Linked DNA regions of Homo sapiens. The protein of the gene in region 4 purifies or fractionates together with the protein of the main gene of each other region. This does not show direct contact. Each region holds a gene or a part of one and is shown on either strand. Other genes may lie near its edges.

Region 1 (8,454 bases), on a different chromosome or scaffold from region 4:
CTATGTTGGCCAGGCTGATCTCGAACTCCTGACCTCAGTTGATTCACCTGCCTTGGCCTCCGAAAGTGCTGGGATTACAGGTGTGAGCCACTGCGCCTGGCCCTGAAGTAGTTTTATATGTGGTGAGACAAAGCTAATACATGAAACACTTAGAGATTAAGTGTGTAACTGCAGAAGACTTTTTAAAGAGATAAATTAATTAGAATTGACTTACTGAAATTGAAAAATTTGAATAACTTTTGAGATTTTAAAACTCAAAATTTTCTCAAAATTTTACCAAATTTCAATTTGGTAAAAACTGAAGCCTCTTACAATTTTACAGTTGTGTTTTTCTGTAACATAAGGTGGAATACCTGAGTTGGAAAAAGACCTTTATTTGTTAAGCAAACAATACTTTAACAACTTTATAATAGTACTGTAGGCCAGGTATGGTGGCTCACACCTGTAATCCCAGCACCTTGGTTTTGTTTTGTTTTTTATTTTTGTAGATACTAGGTTTTGCCATGTTGCCCAGGCTAATCTTGAACCCCTGAGTTCAAGCGATCTGCCTGCCTTGGCCTCCCCAAATGGTGGAATTTCAAGCATGAGCCACTGAACCTGGCCCCAGCACATTGGGTGGTTGAGGCAGGAGGATCGCCTGAGACCAGGAGTTTGAGACCAGCCTTGGCAACATAGTGAGACCCTGTCCCTAATCCCCCAACAACAACAACAAAAGAATTAATAGTTAATAAGTAGATAAGTGAAGAGGAAAGGTGGAGTAGCATTTGGAAGAAAGGAGTAGTGAACAAAGGCAGAGTTTGCAATAACTTCATCTCTGCTGGAGCGGTGAGCCTGAATTGATTGGAACAGAGGTCTTTCATTGAGGATAGAACGTAAAACATAGTAATGAGTTAAAGGTTTGATCCATTATATCGTTTAGGTTCTTGAGCAGAGGGGGGTGATATGTAAGGTTTTTTTTAAGGAAGGTTAGTTAACAGTGTGCAAGATGGGTAGAAGGGTGAGAAGTTGTACTTGGTAAAATCTGTTTTGAGCTTTTGGCAGTAACTTAGGCATATATATGTAGTCAACGATGAGATATAGTTGATTAGTGTGTCATTTGGACTGGAAAAGATGAGCTGGCAACGAAAGACTTTTTAAAGGACAAATAAAAGGATTTTTTAAAAAGTTCGACTAAGGGGGAATGAAGGAATGGTAAGAGGGAGGTAATAGCTTTAAGATAACCAGCTTAGGAGACTCAATGATACCTCTGAATAAAAGGTTCATTTAGAAGGAGTTCTTGTTTGAAGATGAGTTTAGTTCAGACGTTTTGAGTTCATGGTGCAACATTCGATTGTCGAAGATTTCTAAGCAACTACAGATAGAAACAAAAGCATACATGAAAAATTAGTTTATTGTGGAGTTGTGTTGGTGAATTCGCCAATAAATTAAGTGTAGAGATAAAAGCATAAAACTGATAATAGTTTCTGCCCTGTGATTAATACTTAGGATTGATAGAATAAAGGATAAAGTTTGGATAGTACCCATGGATAAGGGAACAAGTGATAGTGAAAGAATCAACAAAGACCAAGAGCAGTTAGGAAGATAGAGGAGCTCTGATAGAATCTTTGTCATTTTATCCACCAATATTCAGAGACTTGCAGGTATTTCAAGCTAGAAAGAACCTGAATAAGAATTAGGTGATGATGTCCATTTTAAATTTATGATGACTATGCATCTAAAACAGTTATTCTCAACTGGGAGCAGAATAACTGGAACGAGTTGAGAATAATTGTTATAGATGCATAGTCATCATAAAGTAAGGGCTTCTATAAAATTTTCATGGCTCATTAGAATGGGAATAATTTCTTTCTTTTTTTTTGAGACGGAGTCTCGCTCTATCCCCCAGGCTGGAGTACGGTGGTGCAATCTTGGCTCACTGCAAGCTCCGCCTCCTGGGTTCATACCATTCTCCTGCCTCAGCCTCCCGAGTAGCTGGGATTACAGGCGCCTGCCACCATACCTGGCTATTTTTTTTTGTATTTTTACTAGAGATGGGGTTTCACCGTGTTAACCAGGATGGTCTCCATCTCCTGACCTTGTGATCCACCTGCCTCGGCCTCCCAAAGTGCTGGGATTACAGACGTAAGCCATCGTTTTTTTTTTTTTGTTTTTTTTTCTTTTTTCGGTGTTCTTTTTTTTGTGACTGGGTTTCACTCTTGTTGCCCAGGCTGGAATGCAATGGCACAGTCTTGGCTCACTGCAACCCCTGCCTCCTGGGTTCAAGCAATTCTCCTGCCTCAGCTTCCCAAGTAGCTGGGCTTATAGGCGCCTGCCACCATGCTCAGCTAATTTTTGTATTTTTGGTAGAGAAGGAGTTTCACCATGTTGGCCAGGCTGGTCTCGAGCTCCTGACCTTGTGATCTGCCCACCTCGGCCTCACAAAGTTCTGGGATTACAAGCATGAGCCACTGTGCCTGGCCAGAATGGGAAGAATTTCTTAGAGAACTTGGCTGTATACTCCAGCAACAGTTCTTTTTTTTTTTTTTTTTTTTAAATCTTTGAAGATTATATAGAGTAGATAGGATAAAATGATCTATTTTTAAGTCTTGATGACACAGGATTAAGAAAAAGGCAAGTGTGATAGAGGGGATTTGGGATTATTGTAGTGTTGGGCTAACGGTTAAATAGATGCTAAGGTGTCCAGATTTATTTCTGGCTGATAAATGTATGCTGCTGCAGGTGTTTAACAATCTAAATAGCTGTGACAGGTTTATGCCAAAAGTACATTAAAGGGTAGTGAACAATGTCAGGATGCCCGTGTATACCAGACTCTTAATAGTGGGACATGTGGTATATGAACAGTACAAAGCTAAGTGATTTCTGTGCATTAAAACAGATAAATCACAGGTTGAAAAGACAAAAAGCGGCTGGGCTTGGTGGCTCACACCTGTAATCCCAGCACTTTGGGAGGCTGAGGCAGGCAGATCACCTGAGGTCAGGAGTTCGAGACCAGCCTGACCTATATGGTGAAACCCCGTCTCTACTAAGAATACAAAAATTAGCTGAGCATGGTGGCAGGTGCCTGTAATTCCAGCTACTCGAGAGGCTGAGACAGGAGAATCGCTTGAACCCGGGAGGCAGAGGTTGCAGCAAGCCAAGATCGTGCCACTGCACTCCAGCCTGGGCGACAGAGCGAGACTCCATCTCAAAAAAAAAAAAAAAGACAAAAAGCATGTGATAAGGACAGGCTGAAAGACAGCTTGTTAATTTTATACCATATCTACATTACTGAGAAATTACAGCAGCCAAAAAATTACTGTATTAATAGGTAGCATTTCACTCTCAAAACAGATAACCAAGGTGTTGTTGCATATTATAGCATCAAACATTGAAATGTAGAAGCTTGGTTGTAACCAGGTGATAGGAAGTTCAACGTATAATTATCAGAAGGATGATAATCATACATAGGAAATTTTGTACTTTAACATTTGTACTTTCGAATTAGATAGTCTATGCTGTATGTGACATTTATGTAAACAAATAATGGCATCTGTTACTTTGGAGAGTATCACCTTGGATTAGAAAAAGGTGATAAAAGCATTTACGAATTTATAAAAAAGCACTTACTAAGGTAATTTTTTATACATTTTTTAGGTCTGTTAAAATACTTATCCTCTTCTAAAATTAGACTTGTTGATCTAGGGACCATTCTCTTTCCTTAAGATAACTATGTTTCTATACTGACCTACATTCCATTAATCTGAAATATAACTATGAAGGCATCTTATTTCTAGGTGCTTAAAATCGTGACCCTATGCACTGACCTAAAATCACTATGTCTGTGCCCAAACACACAGGTAGTGAAGACCCTGTGCATATAGGGTCAGTTTATTGCATATTCATGTTAAAATAGTTCTCAAACTCCAGAATTACTAAAAAGATGTATCAGTTCATATTTGTATCAGCTGGAGTCTATGAATAATATTTCATATATGTGTACTACTAGTTTTCAAATGATACAGTATAAGAGTGATAAGAGTATGGGCCAGGCATGGTGGCTCACACCTGTAATCCCAGCATTTTGAGAGGCCGAGGTGGGTGGATCACTTGAGGTCAAGAGTTCAAGACCAGCCTGGCTAACATGGTGAAACCCTGTCTCTACTAAAAATACAAAAATTAGCCAGGTGTGGTGGCACATGCCTGTAGTCCCAGCTTCTTGGGAGGCTGAGGCAGGAGAATGGCTTGAACTCGGGAGGCAGAGGTTGCATTGAGTCAGGATTGTGACATTGCACTCCAGCCTGGGTGACAAAGCGAGACTTCATCTCAAAAAAAAAAAAAAAAGAGTATGGACTCTGAGGCCTGATTGGCTGGATTCAAATCCCAGCTCCACACACAGTAGCTGTGAGATTTTGGACAAGTTCCTGAGGTCTGTGCTATACTTTTCTTATCTATAAAATGGGGATAACTGCCTAGCTCATGAAATTATTATAGGGATTAATGCAATTTAATTAAGTGTTGGCTATCTTTATTAAATAGCTATTAGTGTTATTATGATTAATGAAATAAAAATTTTTATTGACTACAGTTAGGAATATAGAGTAGCTTTTTGTTACTGTGAGGGGAGAAGAGTTCAAATAATTGTAGGGATTCTTGTATATATTGAATATAGTTTGGGACTGTGGTAATAATGTGCACTAGGTTTTGGTCAGCAGTATTACTGATTTGCCTATAGAGACAGATTATTTAACAAAATAGATATTACATACTGTAGTGGAAAAGGCCACTGACTAGGGAGTCAGGAGACTTGGGTTCTGATCTCAGCATTACCACAAACTAACCAGCTGTGTTGCTTTGAGCAAATGACTTGTCTTTTCTGGATATTAGTGTACTCAGATTGGAATGAGGACTAGATAATCTCTGAAGCCTCTTTCAGTCTTACCATTGTCTTTTTCTGTGACATAAAGTAGAATACCTGAGTTGGAATGAGACCTTAGGTCTAATCCATTATTCCTTTATAGCATGAGAAGAAGCTATGCAAAGACATTGTGGTGAATGGCAGAACTAGTACTAGAATCTCCTCGAACAGACTATTACTCTGCATTAAATGGGGAAAGCATTATCCATTGTAGAAATGGCCAGCTAACTCATTGCCTTTTATTCTTATATGATTCTTCAGTGCTTCATGTTGCAATCCTTGAGTCAAGCTGGAGAAAAATGATTGCAAATTGTACTGGTGCTGTAATTAAAAGGGATTTGTCCTTTGCAAAACCTTAAATGATAAATGATAATGCATGAAGGCATTCTAACTAGCCAACATTAAAGAAACCATATTTCCAGCAAAGGTAAAATCTGTTAGTAAGTAGGATAGCATGAATTCAGACCTTAGCGTTTGTGCAATTTGTGTGTGATGGCAAAGTTAATGCCCTATTCCAAAGTGATGGATTTTAATCATGAAATCTGTAATAATTCAAATGTCTTAATTACTTTGGTTCTTAAATTGTCCATATATGGTTTAGACCAGAGTTGAACAAACTAGCCCATGGACCAAATCTGTTTTTGTATGCATGAGCTAAGAATTGTTTTTACATTTTTAAATGGTTAAGAGGCTGGGTGCAGTGGCTCACGCCTGTAATCCCAGCACTTTGGGAGGCTGAGGTGGGCTGATTACTTGAACCAAGGAGATCGAGACCAGCCTGGGCAACTTGGCGAAACCTCATCTCTACAAAAAAAAAAAAAAAAAAGAAAAAAGACAAAAAATTAGCCAGGCATGGCGGTGCATGCCTGTAGTCCCAACCACTTGGGAGGCTGAAGCAGGAGGATCATCTGAGCCGGCAGGTTGAGGCTGCAGTGAGATGAGATTGTACCACTGCATTCCAGCCTTGGTGATAGAGTGAGACTTTGTCTAAAAACATAAAATAAGATAAAATGGTTAAGAAATCAAAGGAAAAGAATATTTCATTACGTGTGAAATTACATGAAATTCATATGTTTGCATCTAAAAATAAAGTTTTGTTGGAACACAGCTACGTTCATGTGTTTTTGGATTGTCTTTCGGTGCTTTTGCTTTAAAACGGCAATTGAGTAACTGGGACAGAGATTGGCCCACAAAACCCAAAATATTTACCATCTGGCTCTTCATAGAACGTGTTTGCCAACCTCAGGTCTGGAACAGCACTGTCCAGTGTGGCAGCCAGTAGTCACATGTAGCAATTTAACTTTAAAATAACTTGCAGTGAAAGGATATAAAGCAAAATCATAAAAGGAAAGGGAGCATGGGGTGAAGTCCGGCGGAAACCAGGTCCCAAGAGTTCTCTTCCCAGGGAGTGTAAATTTCTCCAACAGCTAGTCATAACAATGTGTGAAGTTGTATCTACCCGGGGAACTCATTAGAGACTCAGTGCCCACAGTTTTTATTGGGGGCTGGTCACTTATTCACCCTCTGCCTAACAGGTACCAAAATTCCAGACTCCTAGAATGAAAGCAGATGTTTGGCATGAACTGTATTTGTACAAACAGTTTGGGCACAGTGAGCCAATTACGCATATCAATGGGGGGAACTGTTTACCAGTCAAGTACCAAGACCAAATTGATCACAGGGTTGGTCACTCAAAGACCAACTTCCATTATCATAAAAAATTCTGTTAGACAGTGCTGGTGTAAAGAACAGTGATTCATAGCTGTTTTTAAGTTATAGCCCCCTTTGAGATTATGAGTTTTGGATTTTTCACTCTCGGTTTTAGGCATATATATATATAGATGTAATATTTTCATATAGTTTAAGGAGTTCACTAGTTTAGAAGAAAGAACATAAGTGTTTAAAATATGTGCTTTTTAATTTTTGCCCCAGCCACCGTATGATTACGGTCAAATATGTTTTGTATTTTGGTTTAGATGGTATACTAGAGCTTAAAAGCTTGAGATCTGGTATCAGACAGATTTTATTAGAATCTGTAACCAACCATTCAACTAGTTGTTTGGCCTTGAGCAAATTACTTAACATCTCTAAGCTTCAGTTTCCTTATCTTTAAAAGGGTGGTAATAACATTATCTACCTTATAGAAATATGATAAAAAGTATAATAAATGAGATAATGCACATAAGGCGCTTAGCATGATGCACAGAATTTAGTCATTACTCAGTAGTGGTTCTTACTTGTAACTTGTTTCTTACCTCTCCTTCATTAACTTTTTCCCCTTCTCTTACTTCAGAAGTAATTTTGAGTCACTTTTACTGTGTTGTCTTAGTTGATGCTGTTGATGAACAGCTGGCTATTTGGAACCTAAGCCTAGATGGTTCATGAATTATATTGTTTAATATTTTGTGATGTTTTCTTAAATTTAAAATGCTCCTTTAATTTTTCCACTATGTATACAGTACAGCTTTTAAAAATGGAACAGTCTTTTTTAAAGGTCTTAGTTATGCAATATAATTCCTAGATGGTTTTACTGCTATTCATTTATCTAATGAACTTTAGACAAAATCTTTTACTTTTGTTGATGTTAACAAGGTCTTTTTCTTCCTATAGCTGTGCCTTTGGCTGCAACAAGTATGTTGATTACTCAAGGATTAATTAGTAAAGGTAAATATTTAAAATTTGAATTTATTTAGCATTTTGGATACCATGTTTGTTTTGTGGTATTTTCCAGGTCTTTAGAAAAAGTAAAGATAACAATGTATCATATTAAACACTATGTAGAAATTCATTGATGAATTTAAACGTTTTATCTCTGTGGACCCACTGGCTCAAATATCATGACTTGAGAATTTCTCCTGCACTAATAGCATCATTAACAATCTGCAAGAGCAAGAAGGTAACTAAACACCAGTATTAGCAGGGCAAACCTGGTCTAGGTGGGCCAATAGCAACATTATTGCCTAGGAGCTTGTTAGAATGCACATTCATGGGGACCAGGAGTCTGTGTTTTAACAAATTCGAAGTGATTCTTATATAATGATTTAAAGATCAGTAGCTCTCTAAACCAGCTTTGTCTGATCACCTGGGGCGGATGAGTGGCGGTGAGTTAGCATTATTTAAAAAATCAGAATCTCAGGGGTCTGGCAGGTGATCTATTTTTAACGAGCCACCGAGGAGACTTTCTTGTCCTAAAGTCTATTGGCTCAAATAGTACAGTAGTGGAATTGAGTTTAGATTGAGTATTAAATGTCTTGAGTCCTGCATTTAAAATGTAGTGGAGTAAGCAGTAGAGTTGCTTAATTCCTTTACTTCATGAACTATCTATCTGGTAATGGGAAGGTGTCCCAGAAAAGGATGGTGACCTTAGGATGGCCTGGAGGCCTATTGTTTTAATTAACTGGCTCCTTCAAAAATGTGACTTAATGATTGGAAGATTTAGCCTTTTCACATTAGGATATGATGTATGGTACTTAGTTTTGACACAATTAGTTGATAAAAGTAGTTTTGGAGGCAAATGAGAGGATTTTTGGGGTAAAAATTTATTTAAGGAACTTCTGAAG
Region 2 (8,454 bases), on a different chromosome or scaffold from region 4:
AATGTTGGCTTGAAAAGGTGCCTTAGAGACCATCTGCTCAAACTAAGGCCTTCTGCAGATGAGGAGGCCGAGGCTTTGGGTGGCACAGGCGGGGCTTGCCCAAGGCCACACATCCCGTGAGATGCGGGGCCAGCACCGGAATCAGGGATACTTGGCTGCTGAGTGAAGGGATTTTTCTGCTGAGAAGTTGGCTTAGTCTGATTATTCAGATGCCTCCTCTGGCTCTGGAATCAGTGGAGTTCCAACCCAGTCTCTACCACTTTCTAGCTTTGTGATCCAGGAACAGTTCAAACCCGGCACACAGTTTTATCATTTTTTATAAAATGGGGATAACGCTGGCTCCTCTCCCATTGGATTGAGACCAGGAATCATTTAAGTCAGTGTTTTGCACAGCACCTGACAGGTACTCAGAGCTCCAAAAATGTTAGCTGTCAGTGTGATTACTATTACCCTAAGCAAAGGGAAGGGAAGCCAGGGAGGAACCAAGGCTACCTGTGCGGAGTAGCTGTGGAGTCGCAGTCACAGTAGAGGATGGATGGGAGCGCCCAGAGTCCAGGTGGCAGGTGACGGAGGTAGTGTTCAGGGGCCAGGTGAGAGGACAGAGAGCAGCAGGGCTGTGTTCAGGTGCAGAGTCCAGTACCTCACCAGGTGAGGACTCTACCAGGTGAGCAATGGTCTCAGCCTAACCTGCAGATTGAGGTCTGAGGCCACCCACTGAGCTGGAAGGAAGAGGATTTTTTTTTTTTTCATGGATTTTTCCTGCCTTAAGGAAGAGGATTTTGGAATCAACAAAGACATGAGGCCAGGTGCAGTGGCTCACACCTGTAATCCCAACACTTTGGGAGGCCGAGGCGGGAGGATCATCTGAGGTCAGGAGTTTGAGACCAGCCTGGCCAACATGGCAAAACCCTGACTCTATTAAAAATACAAAAATTAGCCAGCATGGTGGCGTGCACCTCTAATCCCAGCTACTCAGGAGGCTGAGGCACGAGAATCGCTTCAGCCTGGGGGGTGGAGGTTGCGGTGAGCTAAGATCATGCCACTGCACTCCAGCTTGGGTGACAGAGCAAGACTCGGTCTCAAAAAAAAAAAAAAAAAAAGATATGAGAGGGTTCTAGAAGGAGGTTTCTCAGGGAGGCAAGAAGAAGGGAATTGATGGAGTGATGACCCACAGGAAGGAGTCGTCCAAAGGTTGGACCCTGTGAGTCCACAATGAGCCACTCCGAATAGCCCTGTCCTTATGCCACTGCGCAGGCTGGAGAGGGAGGTGCTGTCCACGTTGGGAGGAGCGCAGCTGGAGCATGGGCCGGGACACCGCAGAAGGAGATCTGCAGAGCCCTGGTCAGGAACGGGGCTGGTGGTGGCAGCTCAGCAGTGCTCACCTTCTCCTCTGCAGATACACAGAGCCCTCCCGCACGCATGTGTTCCCCTGGACATCCTTTGCCAGTCTTGAGCCTTCACATGGCTTAACAGCAGGGCCGTTTCCTCCTTCAGCTATAAATGTTTTTAAACATTAGGAGTTGCAGTTCAAAACTTAGGAAAATAACACCAGGCTGCCTTCTATTTTATAGGCACTGGTCCCATTAGGAATTGGCATTGCCACAGGAGAACAGGTGAGTGACGCCCCCAACAGGTGGATGACGTCCCCTTGGGGTCAGTACACGCTGACCAGTGACCGAGGACACAGTTGTGTGTTAGGCTCCATCACCTGCTGTACTTTGAGTTGGGAAATTTTCATCATCTTAGAAACTGGGTCATTTTATCAGAGTCTAGAGTCAGATATAGAAAAAGTTTGTGGCTATTTCTCCAATTTATATGACTAAGGTCGGGTATCTTTTTCAAAGTGTCTAATTGAAATTGAAAAGGCAGCAATTTAAAGTTGCTATTGCAAGGGCAGAAAATGGTCTTAAGAAAGCCAGCTTTCAAATTGAATAAACATGACTGCGTTCACTTTTTGAGCTTATAAATGAAGCCCGAGTGCCTGCCAAAACCTGCTGCAGTCAGCCCACGAGCAGAGCAGCGTGAGGAGCTGATTCTCAGTTTTCCCGGCAAAAGGAGCAATACTGCTCTGCCGTGGTTCCGTGTTGTCATCTGTGCCACCTGCTCATCACTGTCACCGTATTTCATCCTGATGCTTCATCTCCCACTTATCAGTCGCTGTGACAGTCATTCCCTCATAAATGGCGAGCCAGTGTGATTTTGACCTGACTCACACTGTTGCATTAGCAGATTTGTAAAGAAGTGAGCACAAGGTCCCTGCCCACGCTATAAAAGCTCGCCTCATGCCCAGCGAGAACAAAGAAGAAATACAGTCTGGGCTTCCTGACGGCCACTGATGAATAATTATTGGCATAGAGTGGCTGCGTTGCCAGGTTTAGAGATCCTGAAGGCCAAGGCTGACTCTTCTGTTGGTGTTATTTTCAATTCTATTTCCAGTGCCACAATAGAGTGATATTTAAGCAACTCCTACAGGCGAAGGCCCTGCAGTTCCTCCAGATTGACAGTTGCAGACTGGGCAGTGTCAATGAGAACCTCTCAGTATTGCTGATGGCCAAAAAGTTTGAAAGTAAGCGTGCTGCAGCGGCTGCAGACCAGACCTTCATTTCCCCACTAATCAGACACCTCCCTTGATGGTTTGCAATTCACATGCATGGGAGTCTGTAGTTTGCCATTTCGATTTTTTTCTAACTCTCATTTAGCTTTAATCCGGGAATTTTTGATGATTTTCATCTTGGAATTTCCTTCCTAAATATTAATAAATGATTTAATCACCTGTGGGCAATAAGAAAAACCAGAAAGTTCCCTTTCACCCCTTCCTCTCCCTGCCCTACTCTTGGTATTAAATAGAAACGATTTCCTTTTAGTTCCTGTTTGCCCCCATGCTGGTGGAGTTGGCCTCTGTGAACTGGTGCAGCACCTGATTATATTTGACTACATATCAGTTTCTGCAAGCCTTGAAAATAGGTCAGTAATGTGGCATTAATACTTTCTGTTTCAGTAGGGTCCCTCAATCCAGGCCAGAGCTTGTAAATTCTGCCTTCATGACCAGAACACACTAAGACCTTGTCCGCTGGCATGTCCTATAACTCTCAGGCGGAGTTGGTTTTGCTTTCACAGAGACCCACCAATGAACGGTCATTTTGCCTCCTAAGATAGGGTCTGGTAGCTGACTCACTTTATTTTTTAAGTACATTGAAGGTAAGGCTTGCAGCCACACTACTCCCTTAACCAGCTCCTGTTTTCATCACGTGTATTCTGTACTTCTGTCCCATCTCCTCTTCCCAGTACTGGAGTCTTCCATGGTCTAGACACACATTTATTTCATCTTATTTCTCAGAACGCCCCAGGTGGGCTTTTAAATTAGGACAATCTCCTTCCAGTCATCTGCACACGTAGGGTTTTGCTTATTCCACTTTTCTTGTCTCCTGGAATTAAATGTCTCACAGAAAGATCACTGCAAGTATATAGCAAAGGCACAAAAGCATTCACTGGGAAAGGGAAACACCAAATTCAGGACTGTGAGTGATAAATGGGACCCTTGAGGGTACATAGGAGGCTTCAGTAATAATGGTAACCGTTTTTCTCTTCAGGGGGGTAGTGAGTAGACAGGTGCTGTCTTTTAATATAGCCGAACTATTTTATACTGTATTAGTCTATTCTTGCACTGCTATAAAGAAATACCTGAGACTGGGTAATTTATAAAGAAAAGAGGTTTAATTGGCTTACAGTTCTGCAGGCTGCACGGGAAGCATAGCGGCTTCTGCTCAGCTTCTGGAAACTTACAATCATGATGGAAGGTGAAGGGGGAACAAGCACTTCTTATGGCCAAGAGCAGGAGGAAGAGAGAGTGAGGGGGGAAGGTGCTACACACTTTTAAACAACAGATCTTGTGATAACTATCTCGAACAGCACCAAGGAACGGGTGCCAAACCATTCATGAAGGACCACTTCCCATGATCCAATCACCTCCCAGCAGGCCCTGCTGCCAACACTGGGGATTACAGTTCAACATGAGATTTGGGCAGGGACACAAATCCAAAACAAATCCAAACCATATCAGCCTGCCTGTCACAGCTGTTCAATAACAGGCGATGGAAGTCAGGCAGCAGAGCTCGGTCACTTGCCCCAAGCCTCAGAACTACAAAGTGGCTGACGCAGAACCTGAACACAGATTGACCTGATTCTAAATCCTCTGCTCTTCATCTAAATCATTTGTATAGCTGAAAGGAACCTCATTTGGTGATTTTATTTTTTGGGTGGGGAGTATGGAATGTATTTTATTGTTCTGCATCTGGGTTTGCTTCCTTAGATGTCTTGGTTCTTGGATGGAGGTGGGTGTGTCCCACCTCCCTCAGTTGTGGTCCCATGGACCTGTTCGGATTGTTTTCCAGGTACAAAGTGTACCGAGAAAGCCTCACAGTGCTAATGCTTCCTAGATGCCCAGCTGAGGCAGTGACAAAATGGCCCTCCCAACCCTACCTGCCAAAAAAACCCCAAGCCCCTGGCAGCTGCTGCAGCCATGTGAAAAAATACAAACGCTTCTTGAAAAATAGATCACAAAATGTGGTGATTTTAATCTATTCATCTGACTTTTGACCAGAGGAACCCAAATAATTCTGGATATTTACAGAGTCTGAATTGATCCCTTTTAAAGGGCACCACAAAACCTCTAGAGGGACTTCGTGTGTTCATGTCATCAAAGTCCCCACCTCACATTGCTATATTTTAGAAGAAAAGGACCTGAGGCACAGAGGTTTAGGGACTTGCCTAGAAACGCATGGTAACACAGCTAAGCCTTGGCCAACACTGTCAATTGAGTGGTACTCGCTCCTTCTGCTTTAAGTTAGCACCACGTGAATAATCTGACTTCAGGCATCATTGCCCCGATCTGATTCCCTCCTCCTAGGGTGTGTGAGTATGTTGACCACCTGCATGAGCATTTCAAGTATCCCGTGATGATCCAGCGGGCTTCCTACATGCCTCCCAAGGTAAGCTGTGGCCTGAGGGCCCCTGTAGAAGAGATGCTGCCAGCCACTGCCACGCCTGTCTCGTGAACTAGACTGTGGAGCACCAAGCTTTGACTCCTGTTTGTTTGCAATATCCACTAACAAACGGTTCTTCAGTTTGTCTGTATCAAAATCCTCAGGCCTGAGGGCCAGGGCTTGGAGGTTCAATTGCCTCTGACAAGGCTTCTGTAATACTAGCCTTTCCTCACTAGTGGAGATCTTAACATTTGCACTCCTTGTGCAAAAAAACCTGGCACCATCTAGCAAGTTAGTGACCTAAAAAGTTTGGACTACAATTGTGTGGCTGGGGCCATTTATTCTGATCATGTTCAAGAGATCATGGCTCATTTTCACCAACAGAGGTCAAACTATTATCAAAGAGTTTGATGAGTTAACTAACTCTGGCAAGTAGCCAGTAAAATATGTTCCTCTGCCCTATTATTTCCAACAGTCTCCAAACTTATTTTAAAAATATTAATTCAGGGCTGGGCATGGTGGCTTACGCCTGTAATCCCAACACTTTGGGAGGCTGAGGCAGGTGGATCATTTGAGGTCAGGTGTTTGAGACCAGCCTGGCCAACATGGTGAAACCCTGTCTCTACAAAAAATACAAAAAATTAGCCGGGCATGGTGGCAGGTGCCTGTGATCCCAGCTACATGGGAGGCTGAGGCAGGAGAATCACTTGAACCTGGGAGGTGGAGGTTGCAGTGAGCCAAGATTGCGCCACTGCACTGCAGCCTGGGCAACGGACAGTGACTCCATGTCAAAAAAAAAAAAATTAATTAATTGCCTCTGGCTTAGACGTAAAAGCATTTCTTGGAGCAGCATAAATGCATAAAATCTGTTTTTGTTCCAGGTGGTTGTTAACAGGACTCATTTTTTTGGTCTTTGATAGGATCCCGGCTACTCAACAGAAATGAAGGAGGAATCTGTAAAGAAACACCAGTATCCAGATGGTGAAGTTTGGAAGAAACTCCTTCCTGCTCAAGAAAATTAAGTGCTCAGCCCCAACAACTTTTTTCTTTCTGAAGTGAAAGGGCTTAAAATTTCTTGGAAATAGTTTTACAAAAATGGATTTAAAAAATCCTACCGATCAAGATGAGTTCAGCTAGAAGTCATACCACCCTCAGGAATCAGCTAAGTAATTATTACTTGATTCTTTTAGCAAATCAATGCACGTTATCCTACTTAATCCTTAAATAAGTTTAGATTTAACTAACCCAAAGTCCAGGAGGATGTTCTTACAAAAATAGCTATATCAAGGGCTGGCACCTAGACATTAAACTGTAATTTGAAAATAAGCAACATGTTGCATAACTTGTTGGAATAATTCCTTGTTCTGTTTAACACTTGTCATAAATTAGCAGAATAAAAATAGTCGTGCAACACCGGGGGTATCTGGTATGCAACGAAGGGAAAAATATTTCACTGATTAACCCCGAAGTGGTTTTGCATCTTTTCCTTGCTTAATCTAAGCATATTATTAGAGAAGTCACACCATGCTGAAGCTAATGAGGGCAAAATGGTAGTCCATAGATTATTTTAAAATAACCCTTTAAGGTTATAAAAGTTTAAAAAAAAAAAAAAAAAACTCTATCCTAAATGGTCATTATATTTTGAGGATAAGATGCAGTTAAAATGAGAAAAATAGGGCAAAATATATTCACTATTATTTCTAAAATATACTCTTTTAAGTAGCATCCAAACCAGAATACAGCACATGTTTACTTAAGGAGAGTTCTTTAATCTATTTTAGGAAGGAACTGAGCAGATAAGTGGCAGTACAGAATGAACAAAGCGTGGACGAATGCAGAACACTTCTTTATTATAGCAACATATAAAACAACTATAACTTTAAAGTTCATAACCACACTCTACATCATGATCGATGGTGTTACTCAGCTCCCTCAGATTTGAGGGAATAGCTTGTGAAATTCTTAAAATATTCTAAAAATATTCCAAAAATAGCTTGTGAAATTCACCAACCTTCTTTATAAGTACGTGGGATTGAAATGCACATACATGTTTTTGCTAAGAGCACATACATTTCATTCTCCTCACTTTGTTCATAACCTCAGCATTGTCAGATACCCTCAGTGAGTTAACTCAAAGCCTTTTATTATGGAAAGAACTGGCACAGTTACATTTGCCAGTGGCAACATCCTTAAAAATTAATAACTGATAGGTCACGGACAGATTTTTGACCTAGTTCCTTTTTCTTTTAGAGCAAAAAGAACTTTTACCTCGGCATCCAGCCCAACCCCTAAAGACTGACAATATCCTTCGAGCTCCTTTGAAAGCACCCTAAACAGCCATTTCCATTTTAATAGTTGGATGCGGATTGTACCCTTCAATCTGAAAGTCTTCAGCTTTGAAGTCATCAATTTTCTCAACTTTTCGAAGAATCCTGAGCTTTGGGAAAGGTCTGGGTTCTCGCTGAAGCTAAAAACAAAATAAGGCCATTATTTTGCCATAATTGTACGACCTGTTGTAATTGCTCCTCATGTCCGTGAAACAAGTACACAGGATGTGATCAACAAAGTTCTATTTTACAGGAGTATGATCCTGTCGATACCTTGCCGTAGGTTATGTAACATGATTGGAGCGCAACCAGCTGTTCTCTTGCACAGATCGAGAGTGAGGGGTATTTTGTGACATTACACAGCATCAGGAGCCTGGTGCCTCATCAGGTGTAAGTTCTTATAACCACTCTTGGCAAATTTATTAAAGACAGGAACACAGTCAATCTGTAACTCATAGTAGCTCTACGTTTACTTGAATTCCACAATCCCTAACCCATCTGTCCCTGGCAGAAAGAAGGAAAGATGACATGCATGGACAGTGAACAGAAAGGGATGAAAGCCAGGATTCCTGGGATGAACAGACAGTGGCAATTAGGATGTGAAGACAGGTCACAACCTATTACTATGTCTAAAAACGACCAGAGCAGAGAGCCAGAGAGAATAAGCCTGAAGTCACCTCCACTCAAAAGCAGCCAAACTCCCTCAAAGGAGTAACTTTTAAAACCTGGATCTAACCTGGAAGGGGCTAAAAAGTGTCTGGTTCTGAGTTTTTTTCCTTAAGGCTCATGAAGCAGATGAACTTACATTTTTATTGCCATTTCATATCAATTGTTGGCTGCTATAACTTAGGGATTTCAACAGACTTTTGAAGTTTGGACCTAAATATTGTACTTAATGTAAAATTAACAAAAAATATTTATGGCCAGGGTGGTGGCTTATGCCTGTAATTCCAGAATTTTCGGAGGCTGAGGCAGGTGGATCACTTGAAGTCAGGAGTTTGAGACTAGCCTGGCCAACATGATGAAACCCCATCTCTACTAATAATACAAAAATTAGCTGGGTGTGGTGGCATGTGCCTGTAATCCCAGCTACCTGGGAGGCTGAGGCAGAAGAATTGCTTGAACCCGGGAGGTGGAGGTTGCAG
Region 3 (5,465 bases), on a different chromosome or scaffold from region 4:
GCCTCCCAGAGTGCTGGGATTACAGGTGTGAGCCACCATACCCAGCAAGACTGGTTACTCTTTTTATTCTGAAACCTTGAAACCTAGTGTTCTGTTGATTAATTGAGTAGGAATTGCTACTTCTTCAAGGGTCTAGAATCCAAATACCTGACCCCCTTTTTTGGTCTCAGTTTATATGGTTGATTCTTTGAATCCCAATGTCGAATATCACATCCATCATTATTAAATTTCGTCCTGTTAATTTTAGCTAATTTTTTTTATTTTTTATTTTTTGAGATGGAGTTTTGCTCTTGTCACCCAGACTGGAGTGCAGTGGCATGATCTTGGCTCACTTCGACCTCCTCTTCGCGGGTTCCAGCAATTCCCATGCCTCAGCCTCCCAGCTAGCTAGGACTACAGACGCACACCACCACGCCCTGCTAATTTTTTGTGTTTTTAGTAGAGACAGGGTTTCACCATGTTGGCTAGGCTGGTAATGAACTCCTGACCTCAGGTGATCCACCGGCCTCGGCCTCGCAAAGTGCTGGGATTACAGGTGTGAGCCACCACGCCCAGCCAATTTTAGCTTATTTTAAAAAATAGTTTAATTTTTCTTTAAAAACTTATTTTTATAATTTTAAGTTTATATTTTACTAGCCTGCCTTCTGTAGCTTTATCCAGGTTATTGTTAAAAATATTGAGCAGTTCTGACACCTGCTAGTGAAGACCTCCTGCATTCATATTAATCTTATATGTAACTATTAAATAGCTACCAATCCTTCTGACATAATTTTTTTTCTCTGTAATGTGAATCTGACTTTTTATGAAGAGCTTTACTTTTTGGAATAGACTAGGCAATGGAATTCAGGCAGTTTCTCAATATTAAAAGCTCCTTAGGTTACCAACTATGTCCTGATGTGTAATTATTATATTAAGGCCAGGCGCAGTGGCTCACTCCTGTAATCCCAGCACTTTGGGAGGCCGAGGTGGGTGGATCACTTGAGGCCAGAAGTTTGAGACCAGTCTGGGTAACACGGTGAAACTCCGTCTCTACTAAAAATACAAAAATTTAGCTGGATGTGGTGACACATGCTTGTAATCCCAGCTACTCAAGTGACTGAGGCATGAGAATTGCTTGAACCTGGGAGGGAGAAGTTGCAAGTGAGCCGAGATTGCGCCACTGCACTCCAGCCTGGGCGACAGAGTGAAATTCTGTCTCAAAAAAAAAAAAAATTGTACTAATAACATGGTTCCCTATACTTTTCCTAATATTAAAATTTGAATAGCTGATTGATTATCTTCTATTAGGATAAGGGGTCAGAATTTCAACCTGGAATTTGGAGATTGTACTACGAAAATATTCTCCCCTTAAAAGTAATATCTTCGGGCGCGGCGCGGTGGCTCAAGCCTGTAATCCCAGCACTTTGGGAGGCCGAGGTGGGCGGATCACGAGGTCAAGAGATCGAGACCATCCTGGCTAACACAGTGAAACCCCATCTCTACTGGAAATACAAAAAATTAGCTGGGTGTGATGGCGGGTGCCTGTAGTCCCAGCTACTCAGGAGGCTGAGGCAGGAGAATGGCGTGAACCCGGGAGGTGGAGCTTGCAGTGAGCTGAGATCGCGCCACTGCACTCAAGCCTGGGCGACAGAGCAAGACTCCGTCTCAAAAAAAAAAAGGTAATATCTTCAGAAGCAGTTTTGTTTTGTTTTTGAGACAAGGCCTAGCTCTGTCACTCAGGCGGGAGTGCAGTGGTGCAATCACAGCTCACTGCATGCAACTTCTGCCTCCTGGGCTCAGGTGATCCTCCCACCTCAGCCTCCTGAATAGCTGGGACTGCAGGGGCATGCCACCAGGCCTGGGTAATTTTTGTATTTTTTTGGGGTAGAGACAGGGTATTGCCGTGTTGCCCAGGCTGGTCTTGAACTCCTGGGTTCAAGCAGTCCTCCCGCCTCAGTCTCCTAAAGTGCTGGGATTACAGGTGCGAGCCACCATGCCCAGCCCAGAAGCAGTTTTGCATTTACTTTAATGCAGATGAGCAATTTAGCCACCGGAGCTGTACATCATAGAGCGTGAGTGCAGTCGTTTTCATCTGGAAAAATTTTCAGTTGGTGTTGCTGCCATCATTATTGGTGAGAAAACTTCCAGTAGTCCAGTTAGTGTGGCAGATAGAGGAAAAAGCTGCCAGATACAAGATTACAAAGATAAGGACAAACAGATAAAATCTTGTGCACTCTTTGTGATTTCCAACTTGTAAGTCACAAGCTTCTACAGGAGTCTTAGTTTTGCAAAATCTACTTCTGTGGATTGGACAATAGCATTTCCATATACAACCATTTTCTGTTTTTTTCTAATGTCTAATACTCATCTCCTGTGATTAAATTATCAGACAAGAATGGAAGCATACATGCCTTCTTTCTTTTGGTGTACAATTTGAGAAGAAATTGAAGTAGCTAAGAACTCCCATTGTCTTACCCTACTATATCTGAATGCCCTACCCTCAATAAACATTTGTCAAATAAAGGAATAAAAGAATGATTTTATTACCTTAGTAAATAAACTGAGTAAAACTAGGCAAAGAAAATACTAAGGGTTTTCTATTTTGATAGCATTGTATTATACGGGATACTAAATATCCTTGGGACAAATTGTTAGCCTTTGTTTACATGCACTAATTCTTTTCCTTTTTCTTTCTTTCTTTCTTTCTTTCTTTCTTTCTTTCTTTCTTTCTTTCTTTCTTTCTTTCTTTTTTAAGTCAGGGTCTTGCTGTGTTGCACAGGCTGGAGTGCAGTGGTGCAATCTTGGCTCACTGCAACCTTTGCCTCCTGGGCTCAAGGGATTCTCCTGCCTCAGTGGAACTACAGGTGTGCACCACCACGCTGGGCTGATTTTTCTATTTTCTGTAGAGAGATGGGGTTTCACCATGTTGCCCAGGCTGGTCTTGAACTCGTCAGCTCAAATGATCTTCCCGCCTTGGCCTCCCAAAGTGCTGGGATTACAGACCTGAGCTGTCATGCGTGGCTGCCCAGCCAATTCTTTCTTTCTTTCTTTTTTTGGAGATGGAGCCTTGCTCTGTTGCCCAGGCTGGTGTGCAGTGGCGTGATCACGGCTCACTGCAACCTCTGCCTCCTGGGTTCAAGTGATTCTCCTGCTTCAGCCTCCCGAGTAGCTGGGATTACAGGCACCCACCACTATGCACGGCTAATTTTTGTATTTTTAGTAAAGAAGGGGTTTTGCCATGTTGGCCAGGCTGGTCTCAGACTCCTGAACTCAGGTGATCCACCTACTTCGGCCTCCCAAAATTCTGGAATTACAGTCATCGCACCTGGCCCTGCCCAGCCAATTCTTATTAAATTGTTTAGATAATGCAAAATTAATAGCAGAGCAGAGAGAATGTATTTATGTTTTATTCTTTTTTTCATCTCAGCTATCAGCAGAGAGAATTTATTTTAATCTTATTTTTTGCTTGAGATTTTAGAAAAAAATATTTATCTTGGAAGTTTCTTTTCAATCCTCTGATCCCATTTCTTTCCTCTGAGGCAAAATAGTATTGCCTAAAAAGCAGTGAGAAGAACATCTACATTTCATTGGCAAATGCAGAATTTTTACTTTAGAGGAAAATACATAGCTTAAATACTTTCAGTAAACAAAGCGCTCAGTACTCATCTTTAGGGATTAAGAAAATAAAACCAGGCTGGGTGCAGTGATTCATGCCTGTAATTCCGGCACTTTGGGAGGCTGAGGAGAGTGGATCACCTGAGGTCAGGAGTTTGAGATCAGCCTGGCCAACATGGTGAAATCCCATCTCTACTAATAATACAAAAATTAGCCAGTCGTGGTGGCACACGCCTGTAGTCCCAGCTATTTGGGAGGCTGAGACAAGAGAATCGTACGAACCTGGGAGGTGGAGGTTGCAGTGAGCCAAGATTGTACCACTGCACTCCAGCCTGGGCAGCAGAGCGAGACTCCGTCTCCAAAAAAAAAAACAAACAAAACAAAAAACATAAAAAAATACAACCAAAGGCAAGTAGGATATGGATATTAATGGAATTGAAAACAGATCAGAACAAAAATAGTGGAGAAGATAAATAAATCCCAAATCTGGTTCTTTGCAAATACCAATGATCTAGATAAACATCTTGTAGAAGAAAAAGATATGGAATAAAAATGTACAAGATTGGGAATGAGTAAACACCATAGACCCCAAATACAGGAGACATTAATGGAATCTTTTGCAGATTTTCTTGAGAATATACATGTAATGCTATACTGTCAAAGTTATTTCAAGAGAAAATGGATGTTGTTATAGCAAAATGTCAATGAGTAAAATTGACCCAAGAAGTAAAAATGTTAATTGCCCAATCCCCATGAAAGGTTTGAAAAAATGATGGAAGATTGGTTCTTGACAGAGGCAGCATAGCATATAATTTCACAGCTGAGTTTCATTTATGAAGAACAACACATCATTATAATAAAAAGGAACTCTCTTTTCCATGATGAAGAATGCAAAGCTAGTCAATGCATTCTGTGAAGCACACATATTTTATCTCTGATAAATGCTGCCAATCCTGATTCAAGCACGGGGGGGGGGGGGAGGGAAGGAATGCTGCCAAAAAAGAACAGTCTCACTTATGCCCAGAAATGCAAAATTTCTAAATACAATATTAGCCATAGTTCATCAAGACCATTTCTTTTTTTTTTTTTTTGAGACGGAGTCTCGCTGTGTCGCCAGGATGGAGTGCAGTGACGCAATCTTGGCTCACTGCAGCCTCTGCCTCCCGGGTTAAAGTGATTCTCCTGCCTCAGTCTCCTGAGTAGCTGGGACTACAGGCGCCTGCCACCATGCCTGGCTAATTTTTGTATTTTTAGTAGAGATGGGGTTTCACCATATTGACCAGGCTAGTCTTAAACTCCTGATCTTGTGATCCACCCGCCTCAGCCTCCCAAATTGCTGGGATTACAGATGTGAGCTACCATGCCCAGCCCATCAAGACCATTTCTAATAAGTAAAGTAAGAATAGAGGGAAGTTACAGCAAATATCCTAAATGTCAAGAGCATTAAAATTAGAAACTTGATGGGGACTTGGGGATGCCCATGATCACATTTGTATTCAGTATTGTCTTAAGAGGTTCTGGTAAATGCATTAAAACAGTAAAAGTGAATAATGGTGTTAATATCAGAAAATAAGAACTAAAACTCCTCCCCTTGAAATAAGAACTAAAACTCCTCCCCTTGAAAAGAAGTAAAACTTTTTGAAAGGTTGAAACAAAATAAAAATGGAAAACTTATGTTTTCCATTACAGCCACAGTGTAGCCAGGGAAACCATGAAAAGGATTAGTGAGGAGGTGTGTCTTTTGTTACCAAAATATTGTATCTAGCCTCTGTAATCAGATTAATATGGTATTGTCATAGATTGGTGGAATAAAATAGAGAATCCAGAAATCCAGTATATGTGCAGATTTAATAAAAGATAAAGGTAGTATT
Region 4 (7,459 bases):
ATACTGAGAATCTGGATATTCACCTTGAATGCAATGGTAGGTCAAAGATTTTAAAAGGGATATCTGGTTGAAGAAAAAGTTTTGAGCATATTTGTAAGTTAAAGGGGAAGGGTCAACTGAATAGGAGGCCCCGAAGAGAGAGGAGCAACTGCTTCAGAAAAGACAAAATGAGGCAATACATAGAGTAATGGTACATATTTATGAGTGAAACTGGATGAAACTAAGTAAGAATTTGGTATAAACATAGGTACGTTTGTCCAGGGGCAAGGATTTCAGGGAGCTCCAATCAAATGGGGCTCCATTTAGATATTTATTTTCTGTGAAACAAAGATAAGGTCATCTTCTGCATAAAAGGTAGCAAGAGAAAAACAAAAAATTTCAAAGACCGGCCAGGCCAGCAGCTCATGCCTGTAATCCCAGCACTTTGGGAGGCTGAAGCGGGTGGATCGCTTGAGGTCAGGAGTTCAAGACCAGCCTGGCCAACACGGTGAAACCCGTTTTCTACTAAAAATACAAAAATTAGCTGGGCGTGGTGACGTGTGCCTGTAATCCCAGCTACTTGGGAGGCTGAGGCATGAGAATCACTTGAACCCAGGAGGCGGAGGTTGCAGTGAGCCAGGATCACACCACTGCACTCCAGCCTGGGCAATAGAGCGAGACTCTGTCTCTAAATAAATAAATAAATAAATATGAAAGATCCACTGTAGGAAATGAGAAAGCTGACAAGTAAATATAAGAGGTCTGGCCCAGGTAAAGTTGTGTGATTTTCTAAAGCTGTAATTAGTAACCATGCAGTTAAGTTAGACTTTGGAAGAGATTCAGGATTGGGTTATTGTTCAATGGCATACCAGAAAAACAAGAGGAATTGCCAGAGGTGATTCTGGGATTCTACGATAGAGTATAAAATAGATAATAGAACTGAGAGATTTACAGAATAAATGATTAAGCTACCTCTTATTAATGCTAAACTGGATTATCTTTTAGTCTTCCAGACGAGGTTTATTCAAAGGAATTTTTCTGTTTACTATGAAGATGCTGAATAAGCACTATCTGGTGGGTAGAATAGATATACATGGATATTGGGAGAATCTCACAACAGATGAAGAGAAGGCAGGTCATGGGAAGGCACTCTGGAAGAAAAAGCTCACCTATCTAGAGATTCTTAAGAGAAGAAAAAGTGAAATGCTAAAGTGAATACTTCTTGGTTTTGCAAAGTATCAGCTGAGCCATATGAACAATGGTCAAGTTTGCCCTAGTGCTTAGCTTTCATTAAAATAAAACTTATAGATTCTATGTTTCTTAAACATCAGGGACTGTGTCTTCAAATCCTATTGCTGCTAAGTGCCTGATCATAGGTGGGGTTCAGTAAATGTTTTCTTGTGTGTGAAACTCTTTGAAACAATTTCAATTATTTCCTAATTTAGGATGACAAAGCAGCATAGGCCCCAGCAAAATTTAAGTTAGAATGCACAAAGGCCACAAGCTTGTTGGAAAACAATTACTACCTGATCTCAAAACATAAATGATCATATGAAATACACTGAGATAGAAAGGACATATGTTCCTATTTTACCTATGAAAAGAGGCACACACCAAAGGAAACATTATCCATTTTTATACAAAAAATAAAGACACAAACATAATGACATCAATGTTTCAACACTGTTTCATTTATTTATAATTTATGTAGAAATATTTATTTTTATTGTTCCTATAATAAAAATACTCTTTCAAATAATCGTAATGCTACTTACGTTTTAAAACTGGTTTTAAAATAAATTAGCCAAGATGTCTATATTTTGGAGAATGGCACAACCCTATTGATCTAAAGCAAAGACTGAAATACACACATAGACAATGACCTGTTATACTTTCCATTTCAGTTCAGGAAAGAAAAAAGAGTGTGAGTAAAGCACATCAAAACATTTTAGTCTACTGTGAATCAGTAGAATCCAAGTTTATTATATTTTAAGAAGACAATTCTGTTTATAACCAACACATCTTGGTTTAAAAATAAAAAAGTTCTAAAATTGACTGAAGTGAGTCATACCTGGTGAGATAATCAGCAATTTTAGGATTCTTAAGGAGATCCATCAGTAGGTCAACTGAATACTTTCTAGTTAGAGTGCCATCACCGTTTATGAGAATATTAAATATTAGTTGAAAAGTCTGATGAATGTTTCGAGCATGGAATAGCTTAAGGACAAATTAGAAAAAGCATATTAGACAAAAAATTAAGTTGACACCATCCTAAAAGGTAAAAATAAAAAAGTCTCAATGACTTTTAAAATATCAGACTATAAACTTCAGAATAAATTTGAAAAATTGTATTTACCTTTTCCCCCACCTCTTCATTTAATGTCAAACTGGATAATATTGAAAGTGCAAACACAACCACAGTTAAACTACTATGGGCCAACAAGGTGATAAGAGTTCGATAAAAAGATTTCACATTACTCTGAGGAAAAAAAAGTTAAAAAATAAATTAGAATTATAAATTTTATGTTTTGGTTTAAAAAGTATATCTTGCACAGAGTGGGCAAACTTTTATTAAACATCATTATCAACTCTATTAAATGATTGTTGCATTTAAAAGATAAATGTTCTACAGGAGAAATTTAGATCAGAGATAAATTTAAATTCAAAAATTGTTATAAAGAGAGTACCTACAGAAAAAAATAATTTGGTAAATGCGTGCAAACGAGTTGGAGATAAATATTTCCAAAGTTTTGTCACCTTAGAATAAATAATTCAATGATGGTAAATCAGGGTGTCAATTCTAATAAAGGGACACATGCAGAGTGGAAACAAAAGAGCTACCTTAAATACTGCAGGATTTGTGTTAACAAAAGAACTGTAGCATTTGTTAGCATTTGTGTTAACAAAAGAACTGTAATGAGGAACTCTCATAATTGTGGTGGAAGCAAAAAAAATTCAGCAAATTTAAGAATTTGTTTTACGTTACACACCGTGGAGCAGCAATTAACTTTGCCATATTTGCTGATTAGCATTTAGATTTAAGAGATCACTGCATGTGTGAGCAAGATGGGTAGTTTCGTATATTGCTGACAGTCATATAGATAGCCACAATCTTGGTGAAGAGCAGTTTCTACACATGAAACTATGAGCAAATGTTTATTCTTCCTTATATTTAAGTGTTTCCTAAATATGAACATATGAACTTTTTTTTCAATTCAGAAATTGAAACACACACACACACACACACACACACACACACACACAGTTACTCCACCTCCAAAGTAAGACCAGGGCAGAAAAATGTAGCACTTGAACAAGTGAGATATTAAATTTAAAATCGAACGGGTAATGCTGAATAGCACAGCAGGGAAATTGTTCACCAAGCACCTTAAAGAATCAGTGACTTGCTTGATTTAATATACTTTGTTTTTTTTTTTAAGGATGGAGTCTTACTCTGTTGCCAGGCTGGAGGGCAGTGGCGCGATCTCAGCTCACTCCAACCTCCACCTCCCGGGTTCAAGCAATTCCCCTGCCTCAGCTTCCCAAGTAGCTGGGACTACAGGCGTGTGCCACCACGCCTGGCTAATTTTTTGTATTTTGGTAGAGACAGGGTTCACCATGTTGGCCGAGATGGTCTCCATCTCCTGACCTTGTGATCTGCCTGCCTTGGCCTCCAAAGTGCTGGGATTACAGGTGTGAGCCACCATGCCCAGCTGATTTAATATACTTCTAAAAGTGATTCAGTTAAATTCATTTGTGTGTCTTCATTTATCACAAGTACTGTTGGTTCATACTGAGCACTTAACTCATGAATCTTTCTGGTGGGGTTGCCATTGATTTTGTGGAAACACAAGACTGAGATAAATGGGACTGCCAGTGATGTGCCTCCCTTCTAAGAGCACAAAATAATTTAGTAATTCTTGTACTACTCAATGTAATAAATAATGGGATGCCATGCTGAGGAAAACTTTTAGAAATAAGTGTTTGCATTAACCCTTAACACACAGTCTTCAATACAACATACACGAAGGCTGAAGTGCTTCAAGTTATTTGTATGTCAATCTGACTCTTAATTTTGATGGGTCATCCGATAAGACACAGAATCCTTGTTCAAATTTGTTTTAAAGAAAAAGATAAATACAATTTTCTTTAAGCAGAGAATCTACCATAAAACAAGAAACATTAAAAAGAAATAAACTTCTTACCAATGTCTTTATGTGCGTTTGAACAGAAAGATTGTGCCGACAAAGATTTGCCAATAATCCTAGACAAGGCATTTTTAACTCATCTTCAGAAGATTGACTGTTGTTTTACATTGGTGTTTTGTTTAAAGAAAAAATAGTAAAAGAAAAAAAGCATTAACATTATTCTAAGTCAAAATGATATAGTTAAGTTTATACATTTCAATTCCCTTTTACACGCAAAAAAAAAAACTAATTAACATAAGAAGCCAGGGAAGCTTTGAATAGTATTGATCATTTATCTCATTTTAAAACCAAATTACCCTATTCAATTCCATCATGAAAACATGGAAGTAACTGTCAGCGTGGACCATGTGCTGTTTCATCAGTATATTTTCCTACAAGAATAACTACACAATTTTCAATTTCAGTAATTTTTTTCTGGCCAAATCAATTCAGTCCATAAATTTTTCTTATGAAAATTAAAGTTGCTTTACAATTTTTTTTTCCTTTTTACATTTTTTCACCAATGAATGAGGTCACATACTTTTACAACTTTTGATCCTTAAAATCATCTGGGCAGAACAAATAAGAATCGGAGTCTCACTCAGTTTATATGTTAGAAAATGTTATCTAAGAAAAATTAATCTACCACATGGTTGTAATTTAAAAATAAACAAATAAACTATTTGGTTTTATGTTTGATTGCATACTCACATGTGATCTATCAGGAACGTAATTAATTCATCTATATTGGCACCAGAATAGAAAATTTTGACATTATATGTTAACTTCTGTAGAAGTTGAATGCACTGAGAATAAGAAAATAGTTATAAATATAAAGATATAAAAACATTGCCTGCTTAAAATAATGGACTCTCAGGCACATTCTGAGCATGTCCTTTTCCATTTCCTAAAACAATTTTTTTAAAAAACACATGTAAAGTAATGTAAGAACCTTAGGGCTCTTCTCTCAATTCACACATTTCTACGTATTCTGTCTCAGAGCATGGTTATCAACCTTGTTCACTTAGTCATCTTAAACTTGAATGCAGTTTGAAACACACATGTAGTCCATCAATTAGAAGATACCCTTCTTCACATTTTATCACCTCTAAAACTGCATGTCAATTTAATTTGTGATGTTTTTCTTTCTTACAATTGATGACATTTTAGAGTCAATGAAATATGAAGAGCTTTGAATCTATATTAAATAGACTCTATCTACAGCTTTAATTTTTGTAGAACGTTTCCTCCACAGATTGAGACTAGATGCCAACTCACGTTACAATTTTAATATAAATAGCTTATGTCTCAAAACACAGACATCTGTGTTTATAAGTCAAAGCAGTTATAATGTAGATTTGTTTTTCTTCAATAGTGGTGATAGAAATGGATAAGCTTCTCTTCTCTAGAAACATTTAAATTGTATGTGTGCAACCAGCTTTTAATGAGATGAACTGTGCCTAATCATGTAGTATTTATTATATAGCATATATACACTGTAAGTCAGCAGTTTATGACAGAAACTATCAATTTTGATCTGACAGTAAGGAAAGGGGAATACACTGTGTGGGTCTGTATACCTGCAAAAACACCGAATCAGTGTGGCTGCTCCGACAAACCACTCCCGCCAGCACACTATTCAGATTATATGTATTCTGAAGACAATCTCTGGTTTCAATGTCTACTGCTATAAGTTAAAATAAAAGCACAAAATATATCATTTTCTTACAAGGTTTTGCAGATAATTCATACAGAATTTATTTCATATGAATTTATTATTAAAAAAGGTATGATATGGCTATTTTCTTATTTTCTTTATGATAACCCTCCAATTCAGAAATTCAAATGATTTCTCTATGTAAAATAAACTAGTATCAAAGAAAAAACTTGTTTACACATTTGTAGCAAGCTTTTTCTTTGATACTAATTATTTTAGTATCAAATTAAAATCATTTACTTTGAATATTAAAAGATTATCACTTTATGGTATATTTACACAATGGAATACTATTTGGCCATATAAAAGAATGCATGCCATTTGCAGCAACACGGATGGAACTGAAGGCCATTAGGTTAAGTGAAATAAGCCAGACACAGAAAGAAAAATATTGCATGTATTCATTCATGTGTAGGAGCTAAAAAAGTTGATCTCATGGAAGTGGAGAATGACAGTTACCAGAGGCTGGGAAGAATATGGGTGAGTGTGTGGTGATGGGAGGTGTGAGGGGGAGCCGTTAGTGGGGGAGATGAAGACAGATTGATTAATGGATATAAACACACAATCAGATGGAATAAGTTCTAATGTTTGATAGTAGAGTAAGGTGACTATAGTTAACAATGTATTGTATATTTCAAAATATGACTTGAAATGTTCTAAATACATAGAAATGATAAATCCTCATTTGTGATGGATATCCTAAATACCCTCAATTGATCATCACATACTTTATGCAGGTAACAAAATATCATATGTACCCCATAAGTTTGTATAAATATTATGTATCTGTGAAAAAATTAATTTAAAAAGATTATCATTTCAATTTTTCTGGAAACCTCAAATGCTTCTAAAGTATAAACACTGGAAGTGACTGGCATATTCATTCAAACTGTTGGTGGATGTTAGAAGTGGAAGAATCTTTTCAGAAAGCAATTTAGTAACGGTTATCAAATTTTAGAATGATCTAGAAATTCTAATGGAATTTATCTAATAGAAACACACTAATATTTGAGCAAAATTACATAGAATGTTCACTGCACTATTGATTCCAATAGCAAAAACTTAAAGACAGTTGACTGTCCACTATTAGGGGAATAGTTGAATAAATTACAGTACCCTGTAATTAAGGCACTAGGCAGCTATTAAAGATACTGATATGGAAAGAAACATCTGGTGCTCCACAACACCATTTGTGCTGAAAACAACCAATTAAAGATCCAAAAGTATTGTTTTGTTACAGCACAGAAAAATATCTGCAAAGAAACATACCAAACCATTAAATGAGATTATACCCTCAAAGCTGAAAAGATGAGGGCTGGTGGTAATGGGTACAGGCTCACCCCATTTTACTCTATGTCTGGGCTGTCTAATTTGGTAGCCACTAGCCTTCATGTGGCTATTTCAATTTAGATTAATTAAAATTAAAGATTCAGTTCCTTAGTCTATTACCCACACTTCGAATGCTTAATAGCTCCATGTGGCTAGTGGCTGCTACATTGGATAACACAGTTTTAAAACCATTCTGTCACTGAAGAAAGTTTTATTGGACAATGCTGCTCTGTGTTAATACTTCTGG

Evidence for each region.
Region 1: the proteins of CIP2A (region 4) and OCIAD1 purify together in Homo sapiens (co-immunoprecipitation; one large-scale study listed by IntAct). This does not show direct contact.
Region 2: the proteins of CIP2A (region 4) and ENOSF1 purify together in Homo sapiens (affinity purification with mass spectrometry; one large-scale study listed by BioGRID and IntAct). This does not show direct contact.
Region 3: the proteins of CIP2A (region 4) and USP33 purify together in Homo sapiens (co-immunoprecipitation; one large-scale study listed by IntAct). This does not show direct contact.

Annotation. Positions count from the first base shown.
Region 1 is NC_000004.12:48,835,132-48,843,585, forward strand, and holds part of OCIAD1 (OCIA domain-containing protein 1), read left to right. Parts: intron 1-7,504; coding exon 7,505-7,558; intron 7,559-8,454. UniProt on the Homo sapiens protein: Maintains stem cell potency. Increases STAT3 phosphorylation and controls ERK phosphorylation. May act as a scaffold, increasing STAT3 recruitment onto endosomes. Involved in integrin-mediated cancer cell adhesion and colony formation in ovarian cancer.
Region 2 is NC_000018.10:671,855-680,308, reverse strand, and holds part of ENOSF1 (mitochondrial enolase superfamily member 1), read left to right. Parts: intron 1-1,571; coding exon 1,572-1,613; intron 1,614-2,436; coding exon 2,437-2,566; intron 2,567-2,864; coding exon 2,865-2,964; intron 2,965-4,906; coding exon 4,907-4,988; intron 4,989-5,902; coding exon 5,903-6,004; 3' UTR 6,005-7,311; coding exon of another isoform or gene 7,312-7,449; 3' UTR 7,450-8,454. Other genes in the region: TYMS (thymidylate synthase), read right to left, coding at 7,312-7,449. UniProt on the Homo sapiens protein: Plays a role in the catabolism of L-fucose, a sugar that is part of the carbohydrates that are attached to cellular glycoproteins.
Region 3 is NC_000001.11:77,747,888-77,753,352, reverse strand, and holds part of USP33 (ubiquitin carboxyl-terminal hydrolase 33), read left to right. Parts: intron 1-5,465. UniProt on the Homo sapiens protein: Deubiquitinating enzyme involved in various processes such as centrosome duplication, cellular migration and beta-2 adrenergic receptor/ADRB2 recycling.
Region 4 is NC_000003.12:108,577,231-108,584,689, forward strand, and holds part of CIP2A (protein CIP2A), read right to left. Parts: intron 5,854-7,459; coding exon 5,747-5,853; intron 4,973-5,746; coding exon 4,878-4,972; intron 4,282-4,877; coding exon 4,185-4,281; intron 2,459-4,184; coding exon 2,336-2,458; intron 2,197-2,335; coding exon 2,051-2,196; intron 1-2,050.